Linked DNA regions of Homo sapiens. The protein of the gene in region 1 interacts with the protein of each later gene in a pairwise test. Each region holds a gene or a part of one and is shown on either strand. Other genes may lie near its edges. The genes, in order: SGPL1 and STATH.

What was found.
Region 2: the proteins of SGPL1 (region 1) and STATH interact in binary tests that used the Homo sapiens proteins (3 or more experiments, as listed by UniProt).

The regions. Positions count from the first base shown.
Region 1 is NC_000010.11:70,853,933-70,861,237, forward strand, and holds part of SGPL1 (sphingosine-1-phosphate lyase 1), read left to right. Parts: intron 1-775; coding exon 776-923; intron 924-1,855; coding exon of another isoform or gene 1,856-1,888; intron 1,889-3,681; coding exon 3,682-3,758; intron 3,759-5,438; coding exon 5,439-5,567; intron 5,568-7,305. UniProt on the Homo sapiens protein: Cleaves phosphorylated sphingoid bases (PSBs), such as sphingosine-1-phosphate, into fatty aldehydes and phosphoethanolamine. Elevates stress-induced ceramide production and apoptosis.
Region 2 is NC_000004.12:69,998,850-70,003,259, reverse strand, and holds the end of STATH (statherin isoform a precursor), read right to left. Parts: intron 3,594-4,410; coding exon 3,573-3,593; intron 3,481-3,572; coding exon 3,451-3,480; intron 2,398-3,450; coding exon 2,311-2,397; 3' UTR 2,278-2,310; intron 1,072-2,277; 3' UTR 690-1,071; downstream 1-689. UniProt on the Homo sapiens protein: Salivary protein that stabilizes saliva supersaturated with calcium salts by inhibiting the precipitation of calcium phosphate salts. It also modulates hydroxyapatite crystal formation on the tooth surface.

The DNA.
Region 1 (7,305 bases):
GAGCTCATCACTTGCACAAGGACCAGAATCACTTTTACTGCAGCATGGCCAGTTTTCTGGCCACTGTTCCTAGTTATACCTTTGATTCTTTTACACACACACTGTAGCTGCTGCCAAGGCAGGATCAAAGTCCAAATACTGCCCTCAAGGATGTGCTGACTTTAGCAATGCCAACCAAGTGAAGCAGCAGTGATGTCAATGTGGCAGAGAAAAGGGTTATGGGGAAATTGGGTGCAACTTTTTTTTTTTTTTTTTTGAGACAGAGTCTTGCTCTGTTGCCCAGGCTGAATGGAGTACAGTGGTGTGATCTTGGCTCACTGCAACCTCCACCTCCTGGGTTCAAGTGATTCTCATGCCTCAGCCTCCCAAGTAGCTGGGATTACAAATGCCTGCTACCATGCCTGGCTAATTTTTGTATTTTTAGTAGAGATGGGGTTTCACCATGTTGGCCAGGCTGGTCTCGAACTCCTGACCTGTAATGATCTGCCCACCTCGGCTTCCTGAAGAGCTGTGATAATAGGTGTAAGCCACCGCGACCGGCTGAGTGCATCTTGACCTTTAGAGAGAAGCTTCGCTTTTCAAATTTTTAAGAGGCTATTGTACATGCCAGAAAGTAGCTGATCAGTCAGAATATCACCATATATCTTTAGGAAAAATGTTAGTTTAGTTACTTGTGCGGTGCCTAGCATTGAGCAGTTGCTTGACTGTCATAATAATTCTGCTGTCTCTACTGTACTCTTGCATCTGGATAACTTTGTCTTTCTTACCTTTGGAGATTCAAGACAAGTTGAACAAGACCAAGGATGATATTAGCAAGAACATGTCATTCCTGAAAGTGGACAAAGAGTATGTGAAAGCTTTACCCTCCCAGGGTCTGAGCTCATCTGCTGTTTTGGAGAAACTTAAGGAGTACAGCTCTATGGGTATGATGCTTGGCATATACATGCTCTCTACTTCCTTAAAGAGACAGGTTTTGTCATTGTTTAATGTTCACATAGGTTAAGAATAACTCATCATTGGTTAATACATGTTTAGGAGGGCCTACTCTCTGTTTCACAGGTTGAATTTCCTATTTTTAAAATTATGTTTAGATTCATCCTTCATCCATAAAGCAAGCAAATCTCAGAGACAGTGGAACTTGGCTTTTATTTCCTTTTGTAAGCATGAATAAAACAAATATATTTGTGTTTAAGAAGAGAGAATATAAGATATGTAATACAAATGAAATACAGATCCATGTAAAAATGTGAAATCTGCATAAAGGCACAAAAGAAAATAAGTCACTATAATTCCACTATCAAAGATAAACAGATGGTGTCTATCTTTATGCATGTAGCTATAGGTAGAGCTGTCTATATAGTTTACATCTATCTATATATGTATATCTGTCTGTTTCTGAGAATGCTAATAGTGTTTGTCTGTGTGTATACACATGTATGCATGAGCACATATGGGATGGATAAATAGACCAAATAGCTTGGTGCTTAAGAGCGTAACCCTGGAACCAGCCTGGATTCATACCTTGGTTTGCCACTTAAAGTATGCCTTTGGCGAGTTACTTCTGTATGTCACAGTTCCTGTATCTCTACAATGGGGATAGTAATAGTAGTACAGTACTTACCTGAAAAGATGATTATGGGGATTAAATGAGATCATACATGTATAAATGTTTTATAGTGCCTGGCATATAGTAAGGATTCAGTAAATGTTAAACATTATTGCTATTATTAACTCAAACAGATTTATGTTTGTTACTGATTAAGATCATATTACAAGTACTTTTTAAAAAGAAGCTTTTTAGTTTGATATATTTACAGAAAAGTAGCAAAGATGATAGAGATTTCCCTATACCCAGCTTCTCCTGATGTTAACATCCTCTATAACCATGGTACGTTTATCAAAACTAAAAAATTAACATTGGTACAGTGCTATTAACTACACTACAAATTCTATTTCTAGTTCATCAGGGTTTTTTTTTGTTTTGCTATGTTTTGTTTTAAACTAATGTTCTTTTTTCTATTCTAGGAGCCAACCAGGAGCCATGTTGCATTTTGACAAATACCCTTATTTTTTATTTTTTGAGACAGAGTCTCACTGTGTTGCCCAGGCTGGAATGCAGTGGTGTGATCTCAGCTCACTGCAACTTCCACCTTCCAGGCTTAAGCAATTCTCGTGCCTCAGCCTCCCAAGTAGCTGAGATTACAGGCGTGCGGCACCATACCCAGCTAATTTTTTGTGTTTTTAGTAGAGATAAGATTTCACCATGTTGCCCAGGTTGGTCTCGAACTCCTGAACTCAGGTGATCTGCCCACCTTGGCCTCCCAAAGTGCTAGGATTACAGGTGTGAGCCACTGTGCTCGGCCTTGACAAATACCCTTACAATTTCTAAGTGACATGTGTTGAGGTCTTGACATTGAATAGTACAAAATTTGATATAGTCTAGGATGTAGATGAATAAAGCAGTGGTTAGCACTCTAAAACCTGGTGTTAAAGATTTCCATGATTATGAGACCTGGTTGCCGCCATCATATTGCCTTCTCTTTAATGTTTAAGTCACTGTCCATTGCTGTATTCTCTAGCATCAGTAAAAGAACAGGAAATGAAACCAGTTATCTTATTTTTGAAAGGCTGGTGACCACTGGTCTGAAGCTGTGTATAGTACAGAGCAGTGTCCTCTAAGGAAAGAGTGAAAGTCAAACGGGCAGCAAGCCAGAGCTTGGCAGATTGCTGTAAGAATGAGTTTGTCTGTATATTTACCACTTAGTTTTCTGTTCTCAAGAGCTGAAGATCTTTGCTTTGGAGAGCCCTTGGCTCCATGCAGTTTTTAGTTGGTGTGTTTCCGTAATAGCTTTCTCACTACCCACTTTCAATAGGGCACAGCTGCATTGTAGCACAAGGACCTGAGACACCCATATCAACAAATTTGTGGGTAAAATGAAGAATGTCTCGGGGAGAGAGGAAAGTGGAAAGTCAGATCTTATATTCTACTCAGGAACTTTACTTTTCTTTCCACACTGGGATAAAGGAGGTTTATCCCAATGTTGACTGTGTTCCTGATCTTGAATATGCTACAGCGTGTGCTGCTGGAAGCAGGTAACTAGTTTTATGTGGGTTTCCAGGCTTGGCTTAAGGGAGCCGGCGTCTGAGACCGGGGTGCTCATGGTTTATACCTCATTGTGGTTTGTTTGCTGGTTTCATCTCTGATGATAGTGTGCTGAAATTTCACACTTTTCATTTTGCTTTCTTCTGCCAACTCTGCTCATAATAGTTCTCAAAATTCCTAGGACTGGATAGGAAAGGAGAGAAGAAGGAAGCTATTGCAGAAAAAGGCCACTCCAAAGCCATATAGAGAACAAAAAATAAGTATAGACAAAGGCAAATGTTCCTGCTGTTAGAAGGCAGTTGAGGATGAGGACAACATTATTATCAGATTGCCTTTATTGTAGCTAAATGCTATTAATATCTTTTTCACATTGCTGATAATAATGATTTTTCATCTTTATTTTATTGTGCTAACTCTATTGAACTTTTTTCTTGATTTGCTATAAGAATGCTGTTGGGTTTCCACTCAACATTTTTTTCTTTTGTATCCAGAGGAGTTTCTTCCTGTTTCTTCTTTATCAGAACCTGTCTTCCCAGAGATTCTTGCTTACTGACCAGTGACCTTACCTTTCTCTGCAGACGCCTTCTGGCAAGAGGGGAGAGCCTCTGGAACAGTGTACAGTGGGGAGGAGAAGCTCACTGAGCTCCTTGTGAAGGTGAGTGTCCAGTTCTTGAGGGAAGCCTGTGAGGTCTGTGCCAGTTTACATGACCTCCTTTTTTTCCCTTACTTTTGTAATTAGAAAAATTACTTAAGGAAAGCTTATTGGTACAATAAAACCATAAAAGTTTCTCTTCACCCAAACATAGGCGAATATGTATAATATTATCAAAGACATCTTCAGTCTGTAAAATAGTAAAATGTTATTTATGTTTTCAGTCTTTGCAGATGTCCTGTCTAGAAGGCAGATTACTAGGGAAGGTAGTCCTGTCAGATGAGATTTTTGTGGTGAGACAGATTTTGTTTGATAAGAAGAGATAAGATAGGGAAACTCTTTCATAATTTTCTCAAATCATGTGACCCAAGATGAGCAGTGGTCTCATGTATACTTCAAATAATTCTCATTCTTAGCTTCTTCCATTTCTAATCAAATTTATTTTTATTTTATTTTATTATTTTTACAGACAAAGTCTCACTCTGTCACACAGGCTGGAGTGGAGTGGTGTAATCATGGCTCACTTCAGCCTTGACCTCTTTGGCTCAAGTGATCCTCCCACCTCAGCCTCCTGAGTAGTTGGGACTACAGGCGTGCATCATGACACCCAGCTAATTTTTGTATTTTTTTGTTGGAGATGGGGTCTCACTCTGTTGCCCAGGTTGGTCTTCAACTCCCAGCCTCAAGTGATCCTCCTGCCTTGGCCTCTGAAAGTGTTGAGATTACAGCTGTGAACCACTGCACTCGGCCCTCATATTTATTTTTGAAACTCCACTTCATCATATAAAATTGGGGTTGTACTGATGATCTCTAAGGTCTTTGTGTTTGATTATTATAAATATGAAACTGTCCCTTACTAAATAAATATGGCAGGTTTTGCATAAGTTGGTGTAATGCTCTGATCTTCTGTGCTTAAAATCTTTCAGTAGCTTCCCATTATCTACAGGATGAAACTCAGGTTCTTATGCAGCAGAGAATACAAGTTTCTTCATGAGCCAGCTCCCACTTATTTTTTCTTAACTACTTCTCTTCATTTCCCACATAAACACTAATCCTGCCTTTTCTCTTTACTAAATGTGTCATGCTTTTACGTTGTTTTCCTTCCCTTCCATCATTCCTCTTGTTCCAAATGATGATTCCTACTCATCTCTCAAAGTTCCACTCAGCAGACACCTCTAGATCACTCAGGATGTTAGTTGTTCCCTCTTCAGGGTCCCTTAGCACTCTGTACACACACCTGATATTGCAGTCGATAACAACAGCTGCTTTGTGCCAGACACTCTACTAAGTGCTTCACATGCATTATGTTATTTAATTATTGCTAGAACACTAGAAGATAGCTACCATAACAACTTCTGCGTATGAAGAAACAACCTTAGATTATGTGACCTACACAGCTGAAAGTAATAGGCAAAGCTTAGACTTCCTCCTGGGTCGGTTTGGTGTTATAGTCTGCGCTTTTAACCATATTTATACTTCTTTCCTCATCACATTGTAAAATTATTTATTTACATGTCTGTCTCCTCTGCTATGTTTTGATCTTTTGGTTGAGGAATATATCTTATCTTTTTTTCCAGTTTATATTGTTGTGCCTAATACTTAGAAACTGTTGTTTAGTGCATGATTCTTTGTCCTGTATAGTGTAATAGTTTTGATTTCACATCTGCTTGCATTTTTTTGCAGGCTTATGGAGATTTTGCATGGAGTAACCCCCTGCATCCAGATATCTTCCCAGGACTACGCAAGATAGAGGCAGAAATCGTGAGGATAGCTTGTTCCCTGTTCAATGGGGGACCAGATTCGTGTGGATGTGTAAGTATATGCAAGGGGCATCCAATAGCCTTATTTTTTAGGTTAAAATAGAAGAGTTTTTAATAAATATTAATTATATTTTAAAAAATAAAAAATATTAAAAATATTTTACTACACAAGAAATATTTGATCATTGTAGAAAGGTCATTTTACTACACAAGGAATATTTGATCATTGTAGAAAGATCCTAATTAACTGCAGTTTTAAATGTTACTTGTAATTTTGTAACCTAGACAATGTCAACATTTTGGTATATATTCTTCTAGATATTTTTATTTTCACCTTTTTATTTTGAAAAACTTTGAACCTACATTGAGTTGCTAGGATGGCTTAAAGAACACCTTAGATTCACTAAATGTAAATATGTTGCCATATCTGCTCTCTACACTCTTTCCCTCCCTACCCGCTTCTTCCCTCATCCCCCACCTGCATACCTACCATTCCCCTATTTATCTGTGTATACTTTTGTTGTTCCATCCAGCAGTGTTTTTAGTGTACTTCTGGTTTTACCTGAGCCAAAGTTTAATTTATTATTTTGCTGTAAACTGAACCTCATTTAGTTGCTATTAGGCATAAAGAAAGGGGGAGGACATCATTATATTTAAAGAAACACATGAGGATTCTTTGTTTTACCTGTTCTTTCAAGTAGATGGTTGTTAGTTTTCGTAAACTATGATAGATAAACTTCTGTTTAGATCTGTTGTCTTTAGAAAAAACGAAATCTCAGGTTATGTAGGATAGATAGATTTAACTCAATATGCTGCAATGGTGTCCTAGAGGTGCTAATCCTATCAGATACTCATCATATTTGCAGTCATTATAAAGACTGCAGATTTAATTATTGAAGGGCCCATTCGAAGAGCACCTAATTTAGTTTCTTTTTTTTTTTCCAGGAAGCATTGTTTTTGTTTTGTTTTTCTAATATGTTGGCGCCATGAAAATCATCATGTTCAAATATTAGTAGTAATAAAGGTGATATGCCTGGCATTCATTTTCAAAGCAAAATACTGAAACTGTTAAAAACAGAACCACCCATAATACAGCAGCAGTTTCCCTTAGAGTACTGAGGTGAACAGGGTGACTTTCAGAGGGAAGATGATAATGTACTTACAGTATATTCTCCTATGCCATTAGACTCTTGAAGAACTTGTAAGAGGCCAGAGTGAATAGCCACAGAACAGTTTGGCCTTATCTGGTAAATTTGAAGATACATATATCTTATGACCCAGAAATTCTGCTACTAGGACATACTCTAGAAAAATTAGTACACATATATATCAGGATATATGGACATTAATATTCATAGCAATGTTATTCATGATAGCTAAAAACTGGAAGTAATTCAAATGCCTATCCACAGGACACAGATGAATAAATTGTGGAATGCTGTGTGTGCCTCAATCCATTGTAGCTCTTATTCAGATTGATGTACAAATTGCCTCATCCATCTTTGGCCAGTGGAAACATCATATTGGCTCCTAGGTCCATTTACATGACCCAAGTAATCTTTGAAAGCCTTTTTTCTCTTTCTTTCCTTTTTTTTTTTTTTTTGACGAAATATTCCAGGTTCAGGTTCACTTTGTCCATTTCCTGCTCCAGGCCTTCAATCAGCCATTTATCCAAGGAGCCCTGGTTCATTTAAAACTAGGTAAAATAATTACATAGTTCCAAAATCACATTTATGGAACAAGACAGATTAAAAAAAAAAAGTTAACCAGAATGCAGTCCAGAGAGACAA
Region 2 (4,410 bases), on another chromosome or scaffold:
GTATCCCTTATGCTGTGACGTAATTTATTTTGATCCACTTGCCTTCTCTGTCCATATTGGTCTCCTTGAATTTGTCCCTAATGAAACAAACATGTTTCTATCACAATAAATTTGCATTTGCTATTTTCTGCTGGAAAATTTATTTCTCCATATTCGCTCTCATGCTTAGTTCATATCTTTCATAAAATGTCACTATGTCAGAGAGTCTCTTGTTGACTATCCTGTTTAAATTTGTTTCTGTGCCCTAGACATGCTTATACTTCTTTAGCACACTTATCATTGCCTAAGATATGTACTATTTATTTACTTTGTATCTGCATCTCCCAACTACAATGTAAACTCTCCAAAGACAGGACTTTTGTCTCTCTTTGTCTGCAGCATCTAGAAGAGGACCTGACAGCTGGGGTCATTCAATAAATATTTCTTGAATAAAAGTCATTGCTGAAAAACTAATGGAGGGCATTAGATGGTTTACATGCAGAGTGCCTACATACTGCTGTAGAGTGACATGGTGGTTATCTTCTGACCTACAGGGACTGAGATAAAAAATGTGAGTGCTTTGGAGGCTTAGCAACTGTGGTGTGGCAAAGGAAACCATGGGCAAATCAAATCTTGGCATAAATAGCTCTAATAATAAGTGAGTTTGAGTACCATGTTTGTAACATATAAAATATGACAGACTAAATTATAAATAAGGACCTCTGACATTATGGGCTTCAATCTGTGCTAGTCAAACTGGGAAAGAAGATGATGAAAGAAATCATTATTCCTATAAATAGAAAAGAGAAAAATAAGGAGCATACATGTAAAAATGTGCTTGAAATTTATTGCTTTTAGAGAAGTGATTTCTATTATTCAGAAACAGTACTGAACACAGCTTAACAGTTTAAATTGCAATTATATCATCAAGTGACAATTGAAAAGGCAAGTATCCTGAAACAAAGAGTATACAGTAAATTATAGTGTTTTTCATTTGCATTGCTCTTTGATGATTCTTCAAAAAGTGGTAGTAGTGTGATATGGTATGAAAGATGAGAATATGGATGTAGAAGTCGTATTTGCCAATCAAGCCTGCACAGAAAAAAAAAAATAACAGATTATCTGTAAAATTTTTACCCCTGTAAACACATTTATATTCTGGCCTGGTACAGAGTAGATATTATATACAATTATAGTTTATAAAATGCAGGGCCCAAAATAATATTTGACACAGAGTAGACAATTAAACAATTATTAAATTGGTTCCTGAATAAATAAAAATTATCATTCAGCATCTACAATTTAAATTATTTTTCAATCATCATACTATTTTATTCTTCTACTTAAATATAGCCTACACATTTCATTTATATGCATTTCCTCTAAATAATATTTCAATACATCTTTTCTTGATTAAATGTCATCAGCTATTACCTAAAACCTAGGGGATCAAGTTCAGGCTCTTCCCTGTATCACTAATGGCAATAGAGAATTGAATTGGAATATAATCTCCCAAATGCACTGAAAAATAATTGAAATCCTTTGGACTATTTTAACTTTGTAGAACAATCCTCCCTTATCTCCAAGAGTTTGCTCTATTTTGTTTTGAAATATTATTTTTTCATAGAATTTAGAACATTTAATGTTGTGTAGAGATAGGTAAAACTGACTTTCTAAAAAGAAATTGATAACATTTCCATATTTTCTTGTTAGCATTATGTTAATAATTTCTATAGTAATTGCTCAGTAGAGTTACTTAGGGTACAAAATGCAAATTTCTCACAAGTTCCCAGATGGTTCCCAGATGGAAGCTTCTCCAAAGATTGCATTTTGGGAGTGAAAACTTTAAGCAACACCTAGGTACAGATTTAGTGGCAGGGAAGCCCTGCAGTTATAACTACAAACCTTTCTGATCAAGAGATTTTATGTGATATGTCTTTCAAAAGTGTCACCAATTCTAAAAAGCACATTTAAGTGTTATCATAATACACAATTTTTTGACGAGAAAACTGAGGTTCAGGAGCATTAGGAGTAGTTCAAAGTCATGAAACTAGTAGTTGTCAGGGCCAGCATACAAACCCTGGTGTCCCCCACTCTATAACACTGCCTTCTAACCATAGCAGGACAGAGACTATCTCAGAAGCATTTATATAAATTAATACATTTCAAGGAGCTATACAGCTGGCTGCTTTCTTATACTGGAACTGCTGTTGGTTTAATGTCTTGTTTTTGTTTTTCTTCTTTTAACTGTCAGCACTGATACAGAAAGTAAAAAAAATGTCACTAAACCCATCTTACCTCAATAATCATGTCCTGCAGTTACTGATGATATTAAAAGGTATATTGTTGGTATTGTGGTTGGTATGGTTGTGGGTATAGTGGTTGTTCTGGAACTGGCTGATAAGGGCCATACCCATACTGTATACACACAAGGAGAAAGAAAATTGCAGAAAATTGAGATAATGACAGTGCAAGCGTTTTTATTAGAAGCTTAGATTGTTAAAGTTTTAGGAACTTACATATTACTTATAAGATTTTTTTCCAAACTTTCAATTAGATTTTTCTTTTTGGTTATAAACACATTTTAAAAGCAGGTAAAAATGATTGAGTGTTTACCTTTGTACTGCATGTTCACAGTTTTGTGGTTTTATTTCACATGCAGGAACACCGATTATAGGCTATCACTCCAAAGAGGTTTTAAATTTTCTTCAAAATACTACCTCCCAGCAACCATTTTGCCCACCTTTGAGTATTATGGGAAGGAGACATTTACTAAATTCAGCTTATGTGGTGTTTCTTCAAGTCACTCTTTTAATGAGCTTACTGTCTCTTACGATTCCTACATTCCTTAATACTTCTTCCTTCTGTTAACACAAATAACCATCATCCCTTTTAGAGTATCTTTTTATTTGGTGTTATTTTAATCCATGTATTCACTATATTAGTTAGGGGATCTTTTGCAACCCTATCACATTGACATTATATGTCAACATACTGGGACATCAAGATACATACATTAAGAAAAATGTTAAATAAATGAAATTTGCTATCTCATTTATCATGACCTGTTTAATTTAATGAGTTTATCACCGTCAAAAAAAATCAGAAGGTGCAAACTTACCATATTTTATGTGTAATTATCAGCCTTTATGCTCCATGAGGCATATATTATAATTAACAGAATTAGAATTTCAACTATTTTTTAGGTCAAAGTGATTACTTAGGAGATGATACTTGAGGGCTCAGGGAGTAACTGGTTTCTTCAGGTTGGCACTATGAGTTTCAACTTAAATGTTGTTAGGACACAATACATTTGTGACTGTTACCTGTGTATCATAAATAGAGGAAAACAAAGCACACTTTTGCAACTACTACACATATTTGAGAAATAAGTATTGGTTCTTCTAGAAGAATAAGTAATCAGAGAACACAATTTATTTGGACTACACAGCATTATCAGAGAACACTTACACCGAATCTTCCAATTCTACGCAAAAATTTCTGTGAAAAATGAAGAAAAGTTTAATAATTCAATACAAATGTAGGGAGGACAAAACTGAAAACAAGTTTTCCAGTGAATGAAAATGACTCACCTCTTCAGATGAATCAGCTCCCTTAGAAAACAGAAAATTAGACAATAGTTAGTATCTTAATGTTATAATTCCAGATTGAGTACAAAAATGAACTCAGCAGCTACAGTTGTGAGTAAACAGGATGTAGGCAAATCATCGATAGACACTAAATTAGTTATTTTTGCTTCATGACATCTTTAAAATGAGTTAAGAGTATGCTTTTCTGTAATTAGTGTGCTATATTCAAATATAAATTTATTTGGATTTATACTTGTTTTGTGTGTAAAAGGGAGTAAATGGTTATCATTGGTGAATGAAAAGTGAAACTTTGTATTTTTTCATAAGAATATGTTTTCAGCAGCTCAAAGGCTACTTACACATAACTTTTATTTACTGACAGAGACAAGCATTATGTTTTTCTCTGTTTTCCTTACATTTTTATTTTTTATTTTTTAGACACCTATCCTTTTATAACAAATAATGTGGTATACTGTGATTTTATAATCAAATTAGTTTTTGAAATATCTGTTAGAATTTACCAGGTAAGTTGAACTATTTTTATTCTTTCATGGCCAGTTTCCTACTAATGTCATAGAAAAGGGACAGGAGAAATAGAAGGAAGTAGAGTAGAAGAAAGAGCTCCAGAGAAGTCAAGTGCTTTACCTAGTGATACATAGTAGTAAATGACAATAAAAGCTGGGAACTCATAACATGTCATAGATCTGAAGTTTTGTTTTATAGTTAAAAATAAGCAGCTTTATTTTAGAAAGTGTGTGCTAAATAATTGTATACTAATTTTAAGTTAGTTTTTGCAAGGAATGACTTGAAAATTTCTACTTTGACATCTTCTAATACTTGA